Regions from separate parts of the Homo sapiens genome. Here all the other regions are linked to region 2. Evidence: fine-mapped expression QTL. A gene starts in region 2. Each other region holds a variant in brackets. All regions are shown on one strand. Distances are between the middles of the regions.

Region 1 (8,184 bases), 200 kb after region 2:
CATAAGTTAAGATATCCTGGAACACAGTCACACTATTTGTTTACATATTGTCTATGGCTGCTTTTGTGCTATAACACAGAGTTGAATAGTGTGACAAATATCATATTGTGCATACAAATTATTGTGGTGGGTCCTCGATATGATAACAAGTATTCTTGTAAGCGATAGAAGAGGAGAAGAGACATACAGAGGACAAGGCCATGTCACAACAAGTGGAGACTGGAATTATGCAGCCACAAGCCAAGGAACCTCTGGAACCACCAGAAGCTGGAAATGGCAGGTAAGAATTTACCCAAGAGGCCGGGCGCGGTGGCTCATGCCTGTAATCCCAGCACTTTGGGAGGCCAGGGCGGGCGGATCACAAGGTCAGGAGACCGAGACCATCCTTACCAAAAATACAAAAAAAAAAAAAAAAAAATTAGCCGGGCATGGTGGCAGGCCCCTGTGGTCCCAGCTACTCAGGAGGCTGAGGCAGGAGAATGGTGTGAACCTGGGAGGCAGAGCTTGCAGTGAGTGGAGATCATGCCACTGCCCTCCAGCCTGGGTAACAGAGCGAGACTCCGTCTCAAAAAAAAAAAAAAAAAAAGAAAGAATTCTACCCAAGAGTGTCTGGAGGCAGCACAGCCCTTCCAACACCTCGATTTTGGACTTCTGGTCTACATAACAGTGAGAAAATAATTTTCTTTTGTTTCAAGCCACCCAGTTTGTGGTAATTTGTTATAGCAGCCCTAGGAAATGAATATACTGGTCTTTCATACAAAGTTTACCAACCCCTGTTTCAATCTGTCTTTCTACATTGGATTTGGGTATGCTCATTAGTGTCTAGTTTTCTTCTAAATGAAGTAAAGAGATAGTGAAATGTAGGGATACACTGCATTTCCATTAAAATGACTAAGAGAATGAGAAAGAATGCTCAGCACTATGAAGCTGACAGCTCTTCTCCTCCCATGATGGAGATGGGAGTCGGGGCTGGGTGCTCCATCCATTTCTCCAAAGGACTCATGTCTCCCATGCATTCCAGCTGCTGACCTGGATCAATGGTTTTCAGAAACAGAGGCTAGAAGGGATTATCTCATCAGCTTGTATTCAGGTCTGTGGTAGTGGCAGGGCAGGGGTTGGGGGATTGATAAGGAGGAGGATGAAGAAGGAAAGGCACCACCGTGGAGCAAACTGGTAACTGAGACTTGGAGGAAAGCTAGACCCTTCTCCTCCAAGTCTAAACAAATTCCCTTTCCTTTCATTTTCCTTACTACCATCTGCCCACTGTAGTCCTCCTCACCCACCTATGGAAGCAAGGCTTACCCAGTGACTTTGGGTAGGTACTCAAGCTTCTCTTTCCTACTCTCCCAAAAGAGAGGACTCAGGTCCTGACAAACAAGCATCATAACGACCTACGAAGACAGGATTTGACATAGGAAAATCAGAGCTTGCATTGTTAAGAGTTAAGAAGGGGGATTGTACCCACCTTGTTCCTCCACCTGTTCACAAACAATGTGTCAAAGAAGGGGCAGGTAAGTGGCCAGGCAGCCCTGAAATAGCCTGGGGCCAGGACTGTGACAAATACTCACTGGGAACATCCCCCACCTAAGGGTTGAAGTCAGGAAGAGGAGTGCCCTGTCCTTACACTAGATGGAACTGTTCCTCTATAAAAAAGAAGAAGAAATAAAACCTGATACATGTATTAATCTTATTCAGGGAGATGTGGGTTTTAAGCAATTCAAATATTTCATTCTGTTCTTTCAGTTCTGCCTACTGGCCATTATCAGGAAGATGTGGGAAATAGACTGAAAGAAAATCTTCTGATTATTGAAAGAGAATTTACAGCAGCAAAACAATTTGCAGTGTTTCTACCTAGAGACAGGGAAGTAAGAGAATCTGAGTCCAAGTCCCCACCAAAAAGAGCTTTAGTTTAGAGCCTGTTTCTCAAGAAACTTGCATATGCACACATGAGTTTGGGAAATTCTCATTATTACCTCATAGGTTAGGTCTAAACCTTATTTTAAGACTGAGAAATGGAAACCTAGCTGTGTGAAGAATGCATCAAAGATCATAGAGATGGTTAAGGGCAAAGAGAATACAAGACTCCAACTATGACCCAACTGGGTCCTCCAACACTTTTTACTATCTTTGGATCTGATTCACTTCGGGTAAATGTCTCCTGAGATCTTCCTATGGACGAAGATCGAGCATTTATCGGAAAAGCATTACTCTAGGCAACTATGTAATCAGTAGAATTTTAATTTGACCAAGTGGACATGGAGAGATTTCCACAGCTTATTAACTTTCCCTTGCTCTCTGCCTTTTTCCCAGGCAGAAAATGCATATTATGTATTCCCAGTGTCTGGCTTAATAAGAGGGATTATTATAAAAGGCAGCAATAGGACATCTATTTTCTAAAATATCAAAAAATATGTATTTATTTTGATAAACAGCAAAAATTAAAATGGTCCTGGGGGAAGAGTGCTCTATCGCAGGCCTCAGGCAAAGTTCTAACCTTAGAATCTGTTAGTAGTTAGCAGCAGGGTTAAAAGTTGTTTTTATCAGCTCTGGGTGATTGCCATATATTTTCATCAATTAATTTTTGTTGAAATGCCTGCTGAATATGTGATGTTGCATAGGGAGACAGCTGAATGTTTGCAACATAATCTAATTTGGCAGCTGGGACCTGAAAGCTGAGTATTCCTCAAATCAATATGCCCAGCATCGCAAAGGAAGCAGAACTGAAAAGAGAGGAATGGGTGGTTGGGTGAGATGCTTGCAATGTGGTGATTTAGCTGGAGTTGGGCCTCTGTTCCGAACTCAAACGGTCCCATGTCCCAGGCCTGGCTCTGCCACCAACCAGCTGTGCAGCTTCCAGCAAGTTATCTCAACCTCGAGCATCTGCTTCTTCATCTGTAAATGGAGCTAGTAATTGTACCAACTTTGGAAGACTGTTGTGTTAAGTGCTTTAGAAGTATTATCTCATTTAATTCTTACTACAACCACTACCTGGTAAAATAATTTTTTATTGGTACCTTTTTTTTTTAATGTTTTAGAGAGATAAACAATGTAGCTAATTTTGTAGGAAAGGCCAAAGTAGCTAATTTTGTAGGGGACCTGATTTTTAGTCCAGCTTGGCTGGCAACTAATTTTAGGTCTGTAAAGGTTCAGAAAGTATATCCTGAACACAAGCCCTCCTCAGTTACGTTATTTAAAGTGTTAAATACTCAAGCCAACCGAAACACAAACCAAAGTAAAGAATTTAGATAAGAAAGACATGTGAAAAGGAGGCTACTGGTAAGTACAGAACTCAGTTAAATGTAAATAATTATGAATTAATTGTATTATCTTTTTATTTAAAAATCTAATAAATTCTGATTTTTCTCTCCCCAACTTCCTGTGATATAACTAAGAAAAAACAAAGAGAAACTAGTTTCTGTAAAACTGGAAACTCCGAGAATTCCTCAGTGATATGCCAGGAAACAGGAAGAATTTCCACTAGCCAAAGTTCTGAGGAAGTTACAGGCAGGAAAAAAGATAAGGGTTACCATCTTTTTTTAGTCAATAAAGCTATGCCCACTCTAGGTACTTTCCTTAGAAACATGGAGTCTTCCCAGCAGAGAAAGGAAAGCTAGCCCCAATTTGACTTCTAGAATAATAGAGCCATTTT[G/C]ACCACACTTTCCCTAATATTAGTTACTGTTTTCTTGCACTGGCTTGAGGCTACAATTACCCATAAAATGTTGTGTGACTAGGAGTGCTTATACCTAGAGGGTCTGGGTGGCAGTTAAAAAGAGCTGAGTCTGACAGAGTCGTAGTGCATTCTGGGAGTTATATTGAATCCTGGAGAAACTATTTACCGAGCATTTACTACATGTCAATAGAGGTACCATTCGCTGGATCAGGCACATAAAGAATTGGGAAGAAGGTCTGACTCTACAGGAATCAATACCACTCATGAAAAGATAGGCAGTGGGACTGGATATCTCCCCATGGCAATATATTCACACTACATACAAGACTTTAAGACAGCAAAAGATGGGCTGGAAAGTAAGAATATCAAACAACACTTGTTCATAAGAGAAGTGAACCAGCAGAGAAAAGAGAAAAGAATTGTACCAGCAGTTATGTGGATAGCCAGGGGAACAAAATTAAAAACATACATTGGGAGTTTTGGGAGTTTACAGGAAAATCTCTCCTGAGCAGACCTTTGCACATTAAAGAATGAGTAAATAGAAAAAAAAATGAAATTGATGACAATGAATTATGAGTACGTATTATAAAAGGAGGGGAACATAATGCTCAAAAGGCAGAAAAAAACAGTTTTGAAAGAAGATTTATAACAAATAAATCTTTGTTTGATTTATTTGTTATGCAAATAAATCCAAAATAAATTAGAAAATATGGTAGTTTTGGACTTTAAAAGCTATTCATAACATGGACACTGTGGAACAGTTCTGACTGGAAATCAAAGGAATAGAAGCTGAAATAAAAAGGAACTTGCTGGGGACAAAAAGGCAGGAATAAAGAATGATTGAGATGAGAAACAATTCTGAAAGAGTTAAAAATGCAGTTACAAAATCGGATTCAGCATCAGAACAGGTAAATTGCAAAAAAGCAAATTAGAAATGAAAGAACCAGCTTTAGAAGTTGCTCCACAATGAAAAGGAAAAGAACAATAAGATAAAAAATAATGGGGAAATAGGGATTCCTGGACAGGAGAACTAACCAATTTGAACAGAAGTAATGATTTAAGACATAACCGAAAAAAAAGTTCCTTAATGAATAAAAGTTGGGATCTGCTTACACTAAGCAAAATCAATATACGTGAGAGAGGGGATACATATCCAGAGATATTCTGATATATTTTCTTATTTCAATGGTAAGGAAAGAATTCTACCAGCCATCCAAGAAGGTAAACATTTTGCCTATAAAGGAAAAATATCAGGCTGGGCTCTAATCTTCTATTATAATGCCAGAAAATAACAGAGCCACATTTACAAAATTATGACATGAGAAATCTTATAGAGTGATAATTGTCTACCTAAGTTGTGCTAAGGTAACAGAAAGAACTTCTCATGAATATAAGAGATCAGGAAGTATATTCACAATACCATTCCTGGAAAAATAAACAAAAACCAAACCCCCCAAAACAAACAAAAACCACACTACTCAAAGACATTAGGGATAAACGGTTGAGAAGAATATTAAAAAAGGAAAGCTGTTTACTAAAAGAATTATGGCAAATCTTGCAAACATTTAAATTGAAAATTAAAGCTTAATAATAGTTATAATATCATTATGAGGCTTATTACAAATGTCAAAAATAGCTCTTTAAAGAGAAAATATACAGCATAATATTTAATAGTAAGAATATGAGTTAACATTCCATAAAAAACTGGGACAGTGAGAGAAAAGAAAAGGGAATTAGAAATACATACTAAAATGTTAATCTTTCACAGAGGTACAATCAATACAGTTTTATTTTTGGCATTGATAGGAAGAAAAGAATAGTTTCAAGTAAGTTATTTTTAATGTAAACTACCAGGAAAATAACAACAGAATGCGCAACTTTCAAGTCATGAGACAAAACAAAGTCAAAGAAAATAGTCCATATAGTAAAGGAGGTATAAAAATGAAAACAGTAGAGAGAACAACAAATCACCTAAAATAGAAGCAGAAGTAGACAAAGCATAGTCACTATTACATGAAACATTAATGGTTAAAACACTTTTATGAAACGAAAATGACTCTAAAAGGTCAGAAGCATGTGAAAAACCATATGGACTTCCTAAAAAAACTATTACTCAGGAAAAGTTACAAACTAAAAGATGGAAAACTTGTGTACAAATATGGCTTATGGATATTGAGCTATATCTTCTCATCAGTTCTGTGGAGAGAAACAGATGGGCAATATTGAGTCTAGGTCAGTGAATGTATCAGGTAATCACTAATCCAGAGGGAATATTAGATGAATTTGTCAAAATTGAAGGAGGAGACCAATTGAGATGCTAACAAGTATTGACTCTTCCAAAAAAAAAAAAAAAAAAAAGAAGTGAGTCTGTGTTGGGGGGAGGGGAAATGTTGGAAACCTTCCAATTAATATCACTCAGGAGCGTATTGAAAATCCATTTGCAGAATGGAAGCCAAAGAATGTTCTGAAAGTGCATTTTAGAATAAAATGTTATTGCTCTGTGACACTTACAAATTCAAAAGAATACAGCCATCCAATTAAAAGTTTACATAATCAGATTTATGAAGGTCAAAGGCATCCTAAAGTATTGCATGCTTTCATTACCCCACCTAAATATTTCTTTAAGCAAAATGGCAGAATCTTTAAAAAATGTGTTAGAGGCACACAGTGTTTTGTTCCCTAACTAATTCTAGCCAATGGCCAATGGTTCTGGATCTCCAAATAGTACTGGAAGAGTGCCAGTGCCTTCATATGAAAGTTTACAATATTTAGTTCTTCTATTTTAGGAAAGAGAACCTTGGGACTAGAATAAAACATGCCAGTGAAAACTGAGAAGCTCCAGCTAGAAGTGAAAAATGTATCAAAGGAAATAGATCTATTTGAGTTCTGTTTTATCTCAGACATACTTAATTATATTTCATGACTTTCTTGGTTAGGAACACAGTTCCCTGTAATTGAAGGTCAATATGATGATATTTTTAGCAATTTTTTGTGCAGTATTTTTTGTCTGAGAGACACTCAAGATTCCACTTTTTTCTGCTTAAAATCTTTTTGCACATTAATTGTATATTACCATTTCATTGAAAGATAGATGACTCAAAAATTTTGTTGATGTTTCAAGGTTGTTAAAATTCCATGCTAGAATCCCAGTTACAATCTGCTATACTTGAGTATGAAGAACTATGCATTTATCATGCGTGGAAGAGACTACTGGGCCTACCTCATATTTTCCCTGTCCTGGTCCCATAAGAGATTATACTTCCCAGTCCGTTTGCAACTAGGCAAGGCTGTATGAATAAGTCTAACCAACAAAATGTGAGTGAAAGTGATGTGTGCCACTTCCTGGCTAAGGCAGTTAAGAGCTGACATGACACTTCCACTTCCCTCTTACCCAGTCATGGCAAACTTGGAAGTCATGTGTTGAAATGACAGTGTCACAGAATGGAGGGAGATTTGATCCCTGAGTCAGCAGATGGTGGAGAGTCCCCATTGATTCACAGGAGACTTTGGGAGAGCAAGCACCAAAGTGCTGTGCTAACTAGAGAAGTCAGGGTTTGTCTATGGCAACTTTTATCAATTTTTTTACCCTTACATAAGCTTTTTTGTGCTTTCCTTTTGGGCTCAAGTTCTTTAGGACCTAAGAATATTTATTTGCCTTGAATGAAAATGTGAATCAGTTCACAGCAGTACAAACTCACAGAGTACAAACTCTAAAATAAAGGCATTTACATAAGTCTTAATAATAAGTTTTGTGTTTCATAGGCATATATTCTATTAAATGCAATTCTAAATGGATTGCTTGGCAGGGCAAAGGTAAATGTTGCCAGATTTCTTATAATTTTTAAAGTACCTCTTTATCAGATAAATGAGAAAAAAGTTGAAATAGAAACAGTGAACTCTGAACTTCTTCCCTAATGACTTATTCTACAAAGTTGGTGCACAGGTGTGTTAAAAATATGATATTCAACGTTGTTTTCATTAGAAGTATTTTATGACTTATTTTGAAGAAAATAATCAATTCAATATAAAAATGTAGATGTCTTAGTAGTAAGGGAAGAGAGCAAGGGAGAGAGAGAGTGATTTGTATCCCAATATTGCATTATTACTCTTCATGGATTTAGTCATTTGATTCAATGAAATTTAAAATGAATCATTTAAGTTTCTTCATGTTAGTTAACCAGTCTATATTTTGCACAAAATGATTCTTCTATTTCTTTGGAGTATTTCATGAAGTGATATAAAATTATCACCCTTGTCTTGAAAAAAAAAATCTCCTAAAAAAGTAAACAAATGGAGGTACAAAAACAATCAAGCAAATACAAACTAAGAAAGCAGGAGTGGGCCGGGTGCAGTGGTTCACAACTGTAATCCCAGCACTTTGGGAGGCCGAGGCGGATGGTTCACGAGGTCAGGAGATCAAGACCATCCTGCCTAACATGGTGAAACCCCGTCTCTACTAAAAATACAAAATATTAGCCAGGCGTGGTGGCGGGCACCTGTGATCCCAGCTACTC
Region 2 (8,184 bases):
AGTATGGTAGATGGCAAGCTGTCTTTAATCTTTAGCTTATTAGATAAAATACTTCACAAGTTAAAAGAAAACTTTAGACAAGTTAAATTTTACAGAGTTTAACTGAGCAAAAAATGATTCTCGAATCAGGCAGCCCCCAGAACCAGAATAGATTCAGTGTGATTTTAGGCCTGCCGCATGGTAGGATAACAAGGAAAATGATGTCCAGAAAATGGAAGTGAGGTACAGAAATAGCTGGAACGGTTACAGCTTGATGTTTGCCTTATTTGAACCTGGTTTGAACCTGGTTTGAGCAGCTGGCTGCCTGTAATTGGCTGAAACTTGGCTATTTCTTACAAGAGTAAGTGACCGTTTTCACATCAAGTTACCTTGCATTTCTCTACATATGAAGAAACCTTTAGGCCAAACTTAAACTATGTAAAGAGACAGCTTTAGGCCAAACTTCACTTAACACACATCATGTTTTTTTTGCATTAATTTTCATCACGTAGCCTTTTAAAGATATTTTTAGCCTTCATTCTATTTGGACTGGAATGCGAACCGTGTGTGCGTGTGTGGCTTTTTGAGCTTTTCAACCTTCGTCTTCCTGTTTCTTCTGCCTTTTTTCCACTGAAACTCAAAAACTGTGAAACGTGATTTCCCTTTCTAACACACCTTAGTGCTGTTCAATACTTATAGTCAGGAAGTCCTGTCTGGTCTCCATAAACTCTTGGTTAGTCATAGTCAAACCAGGGAGAGAAGGACTGCACCAAGTGGTGAGACATTCAAGTGATGAGGAAAAGAAAAGAAAAGAAAAAAAAAAGAACACGAAGGGGAACAAAAAAGGAGAAAAGGAGGAAAGGCAGGGAACATATGAATGAGACAAAATTGGGAAGAAAAGGGGGTTGAAATGAGAATCCTCTGAAAGCCAAGTTGACTCAGCCCTTTCAAGAACTCTTAACTCCTCCTGCCCGTTAAAGGTGTGTGAACCAGAGCAACTCCATCTTGAATAGGAGCTGGGCAAAATGAGGCTGAGACCTACTGGGCTGCATTCCAAGATGGTTAGGGCATTCTAAGTCAGCGGATGAGATAGGAGGTTGGCACGAAATACAGGTCATAAAGACCTTGCTGATAAAACAGTTTGCAGTAAAGAAGCCAGCTAAAACTTACCACCAAAACCAAGATGGCCAGGAGAGTGACCTCTGGTCGTCCTCACTGCTACACTCCCACAAGCACCATGACAGTTTACAAATGCCAGGGCAACATCAGGAAGTTATCCTATATGGTCTTAAAAGGGGAGACATGAATAATCCACCCCTTGTTTAGCAGATAATCAAGAAATAACCACAAAAATGGGCAACCAGCAGCCCTCAGGGCTGCCCAGCCAATGGAGCAACCATTCTTTTATTCCTTTACTTTCCTAATAAACTTGCTTTCACTTTACTTTATGGACTTGCCCTGAATTCTTTCTTGTGTGAGATTCAAGAACTCTCGCTTGGGGTCTGGATCAGAACCCCTTTCCTGTAACATTTTTCTGGTGACCACGAAAGGACTCTAGCAAGGAAACCCCTGACCCAAAGGCTAACTTTGGGTAAGTGGTGGGGTCCAGTAACACCCCCACCATTGTCAACTGTCTTATGTTAATTCAGAATTTAGGTCAATTTAGTACTTAGCTACTTTGCGATTGCTGGAGTATAGCTCTTGTGAGGTGTTCTTGTGCACTGTGACACAAGAATCTGGTCATGCTTTTATGAATTTTGTGTGGAGCTTTCCATGAGTGAGAGTGTCCATAAATGTAATCTGAAAAGAACCCAGGACTGAGGCCCTAATGGCTGCTCTGGTTCAATTTTCAGCAACTCATATCCTCTTCTGCAGATTTTAATTCTGGGCCAAGACTCTTATTCTGCTATAGTGGAGTGTCTCTGTGCTAATTCAGGGTTGGGGCTCATTACATGATACCCCAAAGTATGGTACTTTGGAATGCTGAGTACTTTGAACTGAAGAAAATTGGAAAGGCCTCAGAAGCAAGGTCTTTCTGAACTTCTCCTGTCCTGTTTTCCACTGTAAGCAGTAGAAGTTATTACAGTTACTGGCAGCAAATTGCAGCAACCTCGATTCTTGTCTCCTCAGAAGATGTCGACTGAGGGGCATAAGGCAAAAGAAGAGACTGAGGCAAGTTTTAAAGCAGGAGTGAAAATTTCTTAAAAAGCTTTAGAGCAAGAACGAAAGGAAGGAAAGTACACTGAGAAGAGGCCCAAGTGGGTGACTTGAAGGACAAGTGCAAGGTTTGACCTTTTGACTTGGGTTTTTATGTGTTGGCATACTTCTGGGGTCTTGCATCCCTTCTACCCTGATTCTTCCCTTGGGGTGGGTTGTCGAAATGCACAGTAGCCTGCTAGCGCTGGGGAGGGGAGCAAGTGCAGTGTATTTATTGAAGTTGTAAGCATGCTCACCTGAGGCGTTCTTCCCTTTTTCAGTAGAATGCCCCCAGAAGGTCATATATCAGTTAAATTCCACCATTTTGCCTCTTAGTGTGCATGCGTGAGCCCGCTCGCCCAACTCCTGAGATCTCATCAGGAAGCTCCTGATCATCAGTTTCAGGGTTTTTCTATCTATAGGGAAACTGCCTTTCCCTGGCGCTGGCTATGAGCAATTATTATTTTAGAGAGGCGGTGTGACCACTGTCTGACCATCACCTGATGATCTTCTGACATTCCTGGTGGAGCGTGGGGGCCCTATCCTGCCCTGTTCGTGTCTGACTAGCTACCCACTGTAACATCACCACTCTTCGCAGTGAGTCATGGAAACCAGAATTCCTCTTTCCCAACGCAGGTCATAGAAACTAGAATTCTCCTTCCTCCAAGCAAGTCGTAAAACCTAGAAAGGTTATTTTCTGCCTTCTCCCTTGAAGACCCTCATTCCAGAAGGGTCCTGCCCTAATACCAGAAGGAATGCTACACAGGGAGGCCAAGAAGAATATGAACAGACAGGCCTTGCTGGGTTTCCCCATTCAGTCTATTACCATTAGACTATTATCATTCCCTTTTTGTCCAATCCCATTTCTTTTTCTTTTTAAGACACAGGGTCTCTCTCTGTCGCCCAGGCTGGAGTGCAGTGGTGCAATCATTGCTCACTGTAACCTTGAACTCCTGGGCTCAAGCAACTCTCCCACCTCAGCCTCCCAAGTAGCTAGGACTATAGGATCACAATACCCAGCTAATTTGTGTGTGTGTGTGTGTGTGTGTGTGTGTGTGTGTGTGTGTGTGTAGAAATGGGGTCTCCATCTGTTGCCCAGGCTGGTCTCAAACTCCTGGGCTCAGGCGGTCCTCCTGCCTTGGCTTCCCAAAGTGTTGGGATTACAAGTGTGACCCACCGTACCAGGCCTCTAATCACATTTCTACACAGCGATCCCTTCTTCATATAACCTAAGCATAAAAATAGTTTCCTCTAGGTCTCATGGTCTGCATTTTTGGACTCTCATGTCATGTAAAACTTTGATTAGACTTGTTAGGCTTTTTGTGTGTGTTATAGGAGTGTCAGCTGTGACCCTTAAAATGGGTAAAGAAAGGTTTCACACCTTTCCACTCCTACACCAGTCAGAGTTTACTACATAATTTTGGAACTGAGTGATTTCAGATGTGTTTAATTCAGCTTCATCTTGGCTTCACCACATTCTGCCCTGTGTATGCGACTCAGTAACCACTCTGCACCTCAATTTTTTCAAATAAGGTTTGAAAAAGAAGGTTATAATATTTACCTCAATAGGGTATTGTGAAAATTACAGAAGTTATGATTTACATAAATCTAAAACACTTTGAATCATGCACATAGTAAATGTTTAAAGGTGTTCACTATTATTATGATTGACTTAGATTAAACCTATTTTAAATATTAACTGTTCCTCTACGCTATCAGACCTCCAAGTGTGGTGTGGGGATTCATGGGGGTGGGAATTTTCTGGAGACCCTTTTCAGGAGTCCATGAGGCCAAAATTATTTTCTTAATACTACTATGAGGTTGCCTTTTTCATTCACATTCTCTCAAGATGTAGTAGTTTTTTAAGAGCTACCTGAGAAGTGCTAACGTTAGCAACAGAAGCAGCTAGAGAATCCAGTTCTCACATGAAATCAGACATTAGAGACTTTTCTTACTAGATTTAAAAAAAATTACTTGTCATAAAAATGTTGTTTGTTAGCTGGTAACGCATTAGTAATTTTAAATCAATATTTTAAAACTTTAATTCTAATATAGTAAGTATTGATATAACTGACAGAAACAAAAGCTCCCTGGGCTCTTTAACAATCTTTAAGACCGTAAAGGGATCTTGAGGTCAAATTTGAGAACCAAAGCTGTGATGCAACCTCTTTTTGAACAAACGTGGATGCCTCACCACCACAATTTCATCTTTTCTAGCCTCCATGACTTTTTCTTGTTTCCTCTGGCTGGGCTGAATTTCTTCATTTCTGCCTGCCAAAAGCCCTACCCCTCCTTCAAGAGCATCTATAACTGGTTATCCTTGAATTTGGTCCAGATTTCGCTGCCTCCTTGGCACCCTCTTCCACGATGCTGGGCCCTCCAGGGCCGGGCCTCCCTCGGACACGTGCCCTCGTTAGCCTTGGAATATGCACACTCTGTTTTGACGGAGACTCTCTTGCGAGCCTGGTCTAGATTTCTCCCCTCACCAGCCAGGCACAGGCACCAATGGGAGGTGCCTGGGCTCCACAGGCCCGTCGGGGCCAGAGGGTCGCCGGTAGCGTCAACCAAGTGCACGACAGCCCACGGGTGGCTAGGCGCGTGGGAAGAGCCGGAGCCCGACCCCCGCCCACCCGGTTTCCTGGCAGCGCACTGCCGCGTAGGGGCGGAGCCGCGCGCCTACACAGGGTGTGGCCTCCAGCCCGCGCGGGAAAGGGCCTGCGCCGCATGCGCGCGCACAGTCGGCGGCCGCGCGCAGCACGCTCAAGGCCGGGATGGCGGCGGCGGCGGCGGCAGGAAGCGGGACGCCCCGAGAGGAGGAGGGACCTGCTGGGGAGGCAGCGGCCTCGCAGCCCCAGGCCCCAACGAGTGTGCCTGGGGCTCGTCTCTCGAGGTTGCCTCTGGCGCGAGTGAAGGCCTTGGTGAAGGCAGATCCCGACGTGACGCTAGCGGGACAGGAAGCCATCTTCATTCTGGCACGAGCCGCGGTGCGCCTGCAGCGCGAGGGCATGCGGGAGTGGGGGAGGTGGAGTGTGGGGCGGGGCCTCGGGGCCTCCCGCGGGCGGGGCTTAGGGCGGCGTGGCCCGGGTTTTGAGATGTGGGCGTGGACCCGGAAGGCGGAGGAAAGGGGCCGGGGACCTGTGCGAGTTTTGTTAACACTCCTCCCTCTTGTTGAGGACCTGGATAGTGAGTGACTTTAATTTGTATCTCCAGGGCCTCGTACAGAACTTGTAGGAGTCTTTAGTGAATGAGGGAGAATACTGGGAAGAGGGTAGCGGAATGGATCTTCATGAAGTCCAGGACAATCTTAGCTTCCAGAACATTTTCTTGCCCCGAGCCTTTCTTCTCCCTTTCTGCCCCCACCCACAAACCGGAGCCCTCACCTCCTCAGTGTGTTAGAACCCATTACTAAAACTTTGCTTTTTTACTTCACAGGAACTGTTTGTGGAGACCATTGCAAAAGATGCCTACTGTTGCGCTCAGCAGGGAAAAAGGAAAACCCTTCAGAGGAGAGACTTGGGTAGAGTGGCACTGCAGTGTCTGGGGACAGACAAGGGAGGGCTGGGCTGGTTTCCCCTTGTGCAGGTTGAGAAGACGTCACTCTGATCTGAGAGGTGCCACAGCGTCTCTCCCCAGGATGGTTTCTGTTGGCCACAGTGCCAGGAAGCCCTACCTGTAGAGGCTGTCTGCTTGGGGTGGCGGGGCAGTGTGTGAAGGTGTCTGGGGTTGCCGTAGCGGACTGGATCCCTTCATACCTTCTGCCAAATTGCACCAGAAAAAGATATTTCTTTTTCACCTAGCAACTGGGGATTTGATTTCTGACTCTTGTCTGGCTGGGAACCCTCACCTGGGTAAGATTTCGTATACCGTATTCTCATGCGCCCTGCGTCTATTGCCACGTTCTTCTCTGACAACTTTAAGAGCAAAGCGAATAAATAATTTAGGGGTAATTTAGGAGGCCCCCAACCCCCGCGTTGAATGGTATTTGCCTATGCTTTTCTTAACTCTTCTAGGGAGACAGCTAATATATATAAGAGTTGCTGGTAGAGTAGATATGGATCTCAAGGCAGCAAGGGACGCATCTTATAAATGCCCTCATTTGCCCAAAGCCTCATGCCCTTCACTGCAGATTGTGCTGTTTTCTGACTGAGGTCAGCATGGCTGAAGTTAGTCAGGTGTCTCTTTTCCTTGTGTTTCAGATAATGCAATAGAAGCTGTGGATGAATTTGCTTTTCTGGAAGGTGAGTTCCCTCTCAGTGGGCAATCATTTCCGCCTGTCTTTTGCATGTTGATGTGAAATTCAAAATCTCATAAAACGGATGCCTGCTTCTTGTTTGTGTAGGGATAATTCTCCGCACTTGCTATTAGGATAGAAAAAAGTAACTTGCTAAACCTAGTGAGGTTCAGTTTTCTCCCTTGGGGAATTAAAATTTCTACCTGAAAATTGCTAACCATAAAGAAATAGGAGGGAATATAAAGATCCCAGTGGAGTTAGATGAATTCGAAAGTTCGATTCCTACTTTGATCGCCATCCCTAAATGTCAGGCTTGCCCCCCCTCATCATGTTACAGATCAGAAACAATTGTTAACATTTAAAGGGTCACCGCTTGTTCTTTTTTCTTCAACAATCTGTGTGAAGTGATTATTTTGCTGCAATAAGACTTGTACTTGTCTGTATTTTTAGGAGTCATGGATTAACTTGTGTACTAACTAAATTTTGTCATTAAAAAAGAAAATATTTGAAATACCTAATTTTAGCTACCTAGCCTCAGAGCGATTTCTGCTACTTAATTCTTCAGTCTGATCAGCTTACTCTTCACTACACGTATGTAGTCATGTGCTGCGTAATAACTTTTTGGTCAGCCATGGACTGCTCACATGAGGGTGGTCCCATCAGATTATAATGGAGCTGAAAAATTCCTTTTGCCCAGTGAGGTAGTGGTCATAACATCCTAATGAAATACATTACCTTTTCTATGTTTAGATTTGTTTAAATACACTTATCCTCATGTTACAGTTGCCTACAGTATTCAGTACAGTAACATGCTGTTCAGGTTTGTAACCTGACAACAATAGGTATACCCTGTAGACTAAGTGTGTAGTAGGCTATACCATCTAGCTTTGTGTAAGTACCCTCTATGGTGTTCACACAGTGGTGAAATCGCCTGAAGATGTGATGCATTTCTCAGGATGTATCCTTGTTGTTGAGCGACACATGTATTTTGATTGAATAGCTTAGCAAAAGCCATGTATCCTTATTCTCCCAGGGTGTTCTCATTACCTCCTTCAAGCCTTATTACCTTTAGAAATATCTTGATTTATTCCACTCTTTTTTACTCCTTTGTTCTGCATCTCCCTGTCAACCTAGGCCCCTGGTCCTTTTGATAGATATTTTTTAAATGTCTTATTAGATAGATAGACTACCATGGCCAACTCTATGTCTAGACTATTGAGCATTCTTTTAATTTGCAGATTTTTCTTCAGCCTCTCTTTCCACCTACTCATTTTTCTTAAAATTAACTTTTGTTAGTCCTACCTAAGGCAGGCACTCCTTGTGACAGACTTTCTGTAAGTTCTGCAGTCAAAAATGTTTGGAGCCTACTTTACCTCTTCATTTTTAATTACCAGCTTTTCAAAGACATGAGTGATATGATCAGATTTGTATTTTAAGTGCACAACATTGCTGCCCTGGGGAAAATAAACTGGAGGGTACTAGGAATAGAAGTGGGGTGGTCTTATGTAGTTTTCCACTCTAGCCTCTATCACAGCATAGTGCTTAGCTTGGATTTTTAATAAATGGCCATTTATTGAATGATTGGTGTGTTTATTTTCATCCTCTGCCTTCATCCTCATTTATCTCTGTAATTGAATCCCTTTGCTCTGTCCTACATTGGTAGATCTGAATGTTAGCCATCATAGCCCCTGTGGATTCAGTCTGCATTATATTATTTTTTACTGGGTAAAATAAATGTTCTTATGTCCTTAGGTGTGTATGGTCTAAGTAAATACATT
Region 3 (8,184 bases), 72 kb before region 2:
GCTCTTTGACCACATTGTCCAGTGCATCGCGGACTTCCTCGAGTACATGGGCATGAAGGGCGTGTCCCTGCCTCTGGGTTTTACCTTCTCCTTCCCCTGCCAGCAGAACAGCCTGGACGAGGTAACAGCACCTTCCTGGAGGGCTCTCCTGTGGGCTTTATTGACTCTAAACAAAACCAGCCAGGTATGGAGCAGGGGAGAAAGTTGAGCTAAGACTAAGGAAAGGAGGGCGTGAGTTACCAGTAGTGGGGAGGGGCTCCTTGATGGGAATGAGTAAGTTGAGGCTGGTGGAGGTTAAGTAGGTTAGCTCAGCTGTGACAGCCTTTGGGACAACGATGATGATGCTACTCAATGTTAACAACTGCCGGGTGTGGTGACTCATACCTGTAATCTCAGCACTTTGGGAGGCTGAGGCAGGAGGATTACTTGAGGCCAGGATTTCAAGACTAGCCTAGGCAACATAGGAAGACCCCATCTCTATTGAACTTATATATATATATATAGCATTTTTAAGCACTTACTGTGTGCCAGGTACTATGTTAGGTTTCTTACCTGCATTATCTCGTTTAACCCTCACAGCAACCATATAAGAGATATGTTTGAATACCCATTCTACAGAAAGGAAGATAAGCCCCACAGAGGTGCTGGGTGTCTTGCTCCAGGTCATAATAGCTTGGGACTGGCCAAGCCAAGATTTGGATTCTGGGTTCCTGATGCCTGAGCCTGTGCTGTCAGTTATGCTGTGGGGCTCCTGAGGCCCTTGTTATGGGCTCAGGGCATTTTCATGCCATATCCTGTTGTTTGGATGCCCTGGCTCTTCTCTGGTCTCATCTTGCTTCTCACTCCTCTTCAGGTTACCTTGGGTGAATGAAGTAGGTGCATGAGGATCTGGCACTCCCAGATGTTCTGGACATGAGTGCCCCGAGAAGTGGAGGAGAACTGAGTAGGCAGTGCTGGATCTGCTGATGACTGGTAGCCCTAAGCATTAGGTATCTGGAGACTGTTTTTAAGCAGTTGTGTCTCTGTCTCAGTCATGTAGGAGTGCACGTGCACGCTGCCGGTGTGTGGTATGTTGCACATGCCACTGCTAGGTATAAAAGGCATGGCTCCTACCTTTAGATGCTTACAAACAAGCTGGGCTGATGAAGCAAGCTCAGAAAAGGAAGAGCTGCTGTTTGGAATGTGGCCCTCGTGGGATGGATACTGAAGCCCCCAGGACAGGTAGTGAGACAGATGTTAATCCGAGTGCATACCTGGGGGATGTCAGGAGGACTTGGAACAAGTCAGAAGAATGAGTTGATGGGAAAGAAAGGTGAGCAGGCTGCCCATTGTGGAGAGGGTCATGTAGGTGGGAGCAAGTGACAGAAAGAGCTGGGCCAGCGCAGAAGAGCCTACCCTAGTGACAAGGAAAGAGCAGCATTTCCCACAGGGTCCCTGCAACAGTGGCCCTCACCTTGGCTTCACTGAGTTTTGTAGATGCCTCCTTCTCCTCCTTATCTGAGAGAATTCCCCATGTGCACTAGTATAATTAAGGTTTTAGGAAGTTCTGCAATAAAAACTCAGCTTAGTCTGGCATTTCTCAACACCTATTAACATTCATGTAGTGTTAACCAGACTAGCGTTGCTTTATGCCTCATGTGGACAAATTCTTATGTACTATTTAATGGACCATTACTTATTATAACAAAGATATTAGAAACAAACTTGCTGAATAGTGAGATAGTAGTTAAATAAATTATGACCCACTTATTAGCTAGTATCAGCCACTAGTTATTTGTAATAAATTTTAATCACATGAAAAATTACTGGTGATATGACTAAAAAGTTTTAAAACTACTTTTCTTTAGAAATGGTAATCTCTTTATAAAAAAACATAAAATACAATTAATGGGATGATAAAAGCATAACCCTCCAGTGTATATCCTTCTTCTAGACTTCCTACCAAAATATTTTCAAGTAGATACTATCTTAACTTTTCATGCCAACAGGTTATATATTTATTTATATATTTGCCAGGGAAACCAGAATGTGTGTTAACTGTTTCTGTCTGAATTGTGAGATTCCAGGCCATTGGATTAGGTTTTATTCTGTGTTCCAGGTTTCTCTGAGGAGCACGTGTTAGGTCTAGAGCCGTAAAAATTAAGAGCAAATAAAGCAGAAGTCATTTCTTCCTGTGGGCTCTGGCAAGACCCTCCTGTGATGGGGAAATCCCACCAGTGCAGAGGCCCCTGGGGTTAGAGACCCCAGGGCTCTGTGGCCCCCAGCTGTGTTTCCCAGCTGTTGGGCCTCCACTTGCCTCATCAGTAAGGATCACCTGAAATTATGTTATTTGAACATCCCGTAAACACAAACTTGCGTCAAACATGTGAAGCTAACTTGTAGAGAGCTGGGTGGAGATCAGCACACACTGGTCAGCCAGCTCTCTGAGGGTATGTGCTTTGTTTTTCTGAATCTCCTGGGGTCTGAACACAGTGTGACACCTCCAGGTTGATGTGAATGAAATGCCAAGCTGATGGGCATGAATCCCTGAGCAAGGCCTGGAGAAATCATGCAAGTGGGTGGGTTATGAGCACACAGCTCATTTATGGAAGCCGAGCTCTTGGGTAAGGAGTCTGAAGCCCTGAGGCTTGTTTCCTGGTGGGCTGTGGCAGCAGAGAGGGCATCAGGGAATAAAACCCAAAGCATTTCTCCCAGGTTCAAAGCCGTCAAGCATCTGCTCCCAGAGGACCACATTGAAGGCAAGGGGCCACTGAGGATGCTGAGGAGGAGCCTGGAGTTGTTTTCCTCACTGAAAGACATGGGGTGGTGGTGAAGCCTAGCTGTCACCCAGCTGTGGGCAAAGCACTTGTTCGCCAGATGCTGGAGTTTGAAAATTAGGAGACATACACTGACCCTTCTGATGTAAAGGATAGGGACAGAGCAAACTGCTTTGCCCAGTGAGCGAACCAAGCACATAGGAAGAAGTTGCACAGCAGGGTCAGCTGCGTGGTGCTTATGAGCCCATTCACTGGGGTCGGAGGGCCTCGGAGTGCATCCTGCTTCTCTCTTCCAAGCTGTAGGCCTTGAGCAAGTCACTCCAGAGCCTCAGTTTCTTATAAAGTGGCCATAAACATGATAGATGTTCCACAAGGGTGCTGTGAGGGTTAAATAATGTAATGCATGATCTATGCTTAGCCCAGTACCTGCTACACAGTAGGTGCTCAATAAATCCAAGTAAGTACCTTAGGAACAGTTTAATTTGCGGGTGAGATGATTGGTGACTCTGGGGGATCCGTCTGACCTGTGAGGTTGAGAGCTAGAAGCACAGCTGGACCCCCAGAACTGACCTGGGAGCTCTTCCCTGATGTCCTTTCCATGCTTGTGTGTGATTTTTAGAGCATCCTCCTCAAGTGGACAAAAGGCTTCAAGGCATCTGGCTGCGAGGGCGAGGACGTGGTGACCCTGCTGAAGGAAGCGATCCACCGGCGAGAGGTAGGAGACACATGGCACGAGGTCTGATGTGTCAGCTCCTCAATGATTGGCCTGGTCTGTGTGTTCAGAAAGTGAAGGCAACAGTAAGTGTGGCTGCATGGGTTGGGAGGAAGATTAACTCAAGCGTCGTTCAGCAGTTTAGTGTGCACTGTGTGTCAAGCAATGCTCTCAGCACTGGCGGTTCAGGAGTGACCACAACAAAGCTTTGTTCTATAAAGTCCATGACCTAGTGGCAGGTGCTGTTAAGAGCTGTGAAACACACACACACACACACACACACACACACACACACACACAGTAAAGGAATAAAAGAATGGCCACTCCATAAGCAAAACAGCCATGAGGGCTGCTGGTTGCACATTTTTATGGTTATTTCTTGATTATATGCTAAACAAGGGGTGTATTATTCATGCCTTCCCTTTTTAGACCATATAGAGTTTAAAAAAAAAAAAGAAAGAAAAGGAGTGAAGTGGGGTGAGGAGAGCAGATGGAGCAAGTGTGCTGGAAAGGGGCACTGTTAAATAGCACAACTTGGGAGGGTCTCACCAAAGAGGTGACATTTAAGCACAGACCTGAATGGAATGAGAGGGTCAGCCATGGTGTATGATATATATTTTATATACCTGTAAATCTCCCATGCAATTGTCTGAAAGGAGAATATTGGGGTTCACCTGTGAACTGGGCATCTGCTTCTTCCCTCTCAGGAGTTTGACCTGGATGTGGTTGCTGTGGTGAACGACACAGTCGGAACTATGATGACCTGTGGCTTTGAAGACCCTCACTGTGAAGTTGGCCTCATTGTTGGTAAGGACCCAGACTGTCCTTTCCACATGGGGATGCACAGCCTTGGGTGTGGAGGGGTTGGTGCTGAGTGAGGCCCTGGTATCCTGTGATTGGCAGGCACGGGCAGCAATGCCTGCTACATGGAGGAGATGCGCAACGTGGAACTGGTGGAAGGAGAAGAGGGGCGGATGTGTGTGAACATGGAATGGGGGGCCTTCGGGGACAATGGATGCCTAGATGACTTCCGCACAGAATTTGATGTGGCTGTGGATGAGCTTTCACTCAACCC[C/G]GGCAAGCAGAGGTAGGCACCCAACTGGGGCCCTGTTAAGTGTATCCCAGGACTGGATGGCAACAAGTGATCAGAGCTTCCACAATGGCATCTCCCAGGACGCCGGTTCTCGTGAGATGTTAATAAAGGAGGTTTTCTTGGAAAGGGTTTCTTGTCGAATGCACCTGGAAAGTTCTGAGTTAGTAAATGTAAGAAGCATCTCCCACCCAAAAGCCTAGGAGAACAGGTGGGAGAATACTAGACCCTAGGTCTGGCACTCTAAGGAGAAACAAGTAGAAAGTTGAAGCACCTGCTGCTGACAGGCTGAAGAGCATCTCTTGGGTGATGCAGACAGGAGCAAATCCTCTCCCTCCTCCATCTTCCAGCGCCGAGCACCACCTACTGTCAGAATTGAGCAAGGGGCCAGCCCCAGTGTCACAAGGTCCTGTGCATGGTAGGGGAGCGGGGTCTGAGCTAAGAGACAATAGCTTAAGATCTAACACACTTCTCATTAAGATGTTGTCTGTAGTGTTTCCTAACTAGATTAATCAAACACCCTAGTCCTGCAGAATACGCTTTGCAAAACATGTGTCTAGAATAGAAGTTACAGACTAAAATGCCTCTAGGGGCCAGGCAGGCAACATTAATGAAGGAAGCAGGCTGGGTCAAGATAAGATGGGGTGGTGATGGGCTATTGGTTGAAACTAGGGACCTCGTTTTTTTTTCAAGGCAGGATTCAGGACCAAAAGACCCTCAAGCCACTGCATAATAACGTTTAGTTCCAGTGGCCAGGATGGGGGCCCTACAGCTGGCAGTAGTTACTTGAGTAATGATGGTTAGGTCCAAGAGAATGTATACTGAATGCCTAGTGAGGTTAAAGATTAAGACTCAGCATTCTCCCCTGCTCCGAGAAGTCCAGTGGGGTTATGGTGTGTTCCTTCTCGAGTTGCTTCTTGAAATTTCGAAATAAGCCTTGGAAAGGAAATGAGTTCCTTTCCCTGTGGGTTCCTTTCCAAGGCTTATTTCCCCAGGAGCCCCACGGGCCTCGGGCACTGTGGTCAGTGTTGCTGAAGGTTGTGAATTAGCATGCAAAGACACCAGGGATCCTGCCCAAGTGAATCAAGTAGCAATTCCTTTCCCATCAGGGGAGTCTGCCTGTCTGCCACTGCTGATGCACTGGGGGTGACTAAGCTGGCCTGTCCTGTCTCAACACATCCCTCCACCTTCCTACTTAACCTCCATGAATGTTACTTGCATTGCAGGTTCGAGAAAATGATCAGTGGAATGTACCTGGGTGAGATTGTCCGTAACATTCTCATCGATTTCACCAAGCGTGGACTACTCTTCCGAGGCCGCATCTCAGAGCGGCTCAAGACAAGGGGCATCTTTGAAACCAAGTTCTTGTCTCAGATTGAGAGGTGAGAGCTTAGGGCTCAGGGTAGCAGGGGGGCCATGTCCTTTTTTCTCACTGGCAGACAAACTGAAGGATTTCCATAACTCAGGGCATGACTCATACAAAAGTCAGTTTAGTGGCAAACACATTCATGTCTATAGTGTTTACTAAAAGCACATTATGGGCAGTTGTCATTTTAAGGGCAAACAGAGCATTCTCATGAAAGTTTGTGCTAAGCCTGGCCTGAGGTCATGCAAAGTGATATTGTTGGGTTTTAGACCATGTATCAAAGGTAGAAAGATACCTGCTCATAGCATGTAAATTGAAACGCACAGAGGAAGATAACCTATTAAAGCATCCACACTTGGCTTGAAAGCCCTTCCTAACTGCTGGCTGCAGTAATCAGGCAGCCAGGATTGAGTAAAGGTTGGAACGTCAGGCAATGCAGACACATGCCACACAGTGGCTCATTAGAGCAAAGCCTCCCTCCTACAGTCAAATGGTGGAAAATCTCCAAATTAGAACAGTGAATTTCAGAGCCCTTTAAAAATTAATGCTGTGCCATTACTCTCAGGGCAGAGAAGAACAGGAACTAGACAACTGATGTGAGTAGACCCCTCGGGCATCTGCACCAGTGAATAGAAAGATATATTCTAGCTTATAGGTCTGTTATGTTCAGCGAGGTGATTCCAGGCTTCTAAAATAGCTTTCTTTATATAGGAGGGTTTATTTTCTTTCTATAACTTTATTTACACTTCCTTCGTAAATAGCATATAAATACAGTTCAGACCACCCAGAGCAGCAGAGCAGAAATAAAGCACGAGTCTAATGCTGCTTGGTTAGTTCCTGCCCTGCAAACCCATGAACAGCAGCGAGAAAATGGACATGAAAGAGCTTTGTAACTGACCACTGTGATAAACAGTGAATTTGCTTTGTTTTGAGTATCTACTTTGTAGTAGTAATGGTCTATCTGGAGTAGGGAGAGTAGAATGAGGAGCTGTTTGTATTCCTGTCACCGTCAGGAAGAGTCAATGCAGTGCAGTAGGTTGAGCAGTGGTCTGAATTTAGGAATGGGAACCACCTCGAGGGGCCAGCTCCTGGAGAGCTAGACCCCCACAGAGCCTCCCCTGTAAGGACTCAGGCCCTGGTGTGGTAGGCTACCAGCCTTCTTGGTGCATGACTGAACACTTGCTGTCTCCCTCCCACCCCAGTGACTGCCTGGCCCTGCTGCAAGTCCGAGCCATCCTGCAACACTTAGGGCTTGAGAGCACCTGTGACGACAGCATCATTGTTAAGGAGGTGTGCACTGTGGTGGCCCGGCGGGCAGCCCAGCTCTGTGGCGCAGGCATGGCCGCTGTGGTGGACAGGATACGAGAAAACCGTGGGCTGGACGCTCTCAAAGTGACAGTGGGTGTGGATGGGACCCTCTACAAGCTACATCCTCAGTGAGTGCCTGATCCCAGCCCCCCCTGCCTACCTTCTTTCTGTCTTTGTTCTTTCCCTTTTCTTTCTCTCTTTCCTTTGTTACTTTATAGTGAATTATCAGCCATTCCAAATAGTGTATATAATACATGGATTATAGTTTAAAGATTCATAATCAGAAGTAGGCCTGTGTTTCACCCCCCACCGTGGGAAGCCCCCTCCGAGCCCCTCCACAACTGTGTCATCATTCTCCCATGCCAGGGGTAAGTGTTGTGCTGAATCAGTCCCTTGCTTTTCTTTTCCACCCCCATATATGTAGGTATGCATCCATATTGTTTAGTTTTACTTATTTTTGAACTTGCCACAAATAGAATCACATGGTATCTCTTCTGTGGCTGGCTTTTCTCACACAGTGTTTGTTTTGAGACGCATCCGCATTGAAGTATACAGTTGGTAGTTCATTAATTTTCAGAGCTGTATAGCGTACCTTTGAGTATGTTGTTTTTTCTATCGTTGAGGTGATATTTAGGTTACTTCTAGATTTTGACCATTACAAACAGTGCTACTGTGAACATTCTGGCAAATGTAATGCTAGAACTCTGGAGCAAGATTTTTTTTCAACATTCTAGAGCAGGGGTTGACAGGCAACAGCCACAGGCTGTTATTGTACATATAGTTTCATGAGGATTGGGAGGGGGCAGAAGCCCAGCCACCAACCCTGGGACATGGCATCCTCAGCTTTGTAGATGGGGAGGGTGTCCTGACCCTGCTGTATTGGGGCAGATCACAACTCTCTCTTTCTCTGGTCCATATAGGAAGGATCTGTGATCACTGTGATATCCTAGCA

Evidence for each region. PIP is the estimated chance that this variant, and not a neighbour inherited with it, causes the effect. A credible set is the group of variants that fine-mapping cannot tell apart.
Region 1: its variant is the best candidate, but not a certain one, in a credible set for the expression of POLE4 in tibial artery (GTEx, PIP 0.52).
Region 3: its variant is the best candidate, but not a certain one, in a credible set for the expression of POLE4 in neutrophils (CEDAR, PIP 0.56).

Annotation. Positions count from the first base shown.
Region 1 is chr2:75,156,036-75,164,219 of GRCh38, forward strand. All of the region lies in intron 1 of TACR1 (tachykinin receptor 1), which reads right to left. It overlaps TACR1-AS1 (TACR1 antisense RNA 1), which reads left to right. Exons shown (of 4, transcript NR_168010.1): 2 at 169-280. Among named protein-coding and RNA genes, the nearest start is that of TACR1-AS1, 5.8 kb to the left of the region's middle. The variant G/C (reference allele first, on the strand shown) is at 3,650.
Region 2 is chr2:74,953,734-74,961,917 of GRCh38, forward strand. POLE4 (DNA polymerase epsilon 4, accessory subunit) reads left to right here and starts at 4,910. Exons shown (of 4, transcript NM_019896.4): 1 at 4,910-5,159; 2 at 5,608-5,692; 3 at 6,372-6,413. The coding sequence starts at 4,947. It overlaps LOC105374809 (a long non-coding RNA gene), which reads right to left and starts at 5,146. Exons shown (of 5, transcript NR_187884.1): 1 at 4,999-5,146. RefSeq lists enhancers at 4,496-4,996, 4,997-5,497 and silencers at 4,789-5,048, 5,119-5,358.
Region 3 is chr2:74,882,119-74,890,302 of GRCh38, forward strand. HK2 (hexokinase 2) reads left to right here. Exons shown (of 18, transcript NM_000189.5): 12 at 2-121; 13 at 3,376-3,471; 14 at 4,176-4,275; 15 at 4,372-4,555; 16 at 5,785-5,940; 17 at 7,127-7,360. Among named protein-coding and RNA genes, the nearest start is that of LINC01291, 23 kb to the right of the region's middle. The variant C/G (reference allele first, on the strand shown) is at 4,544.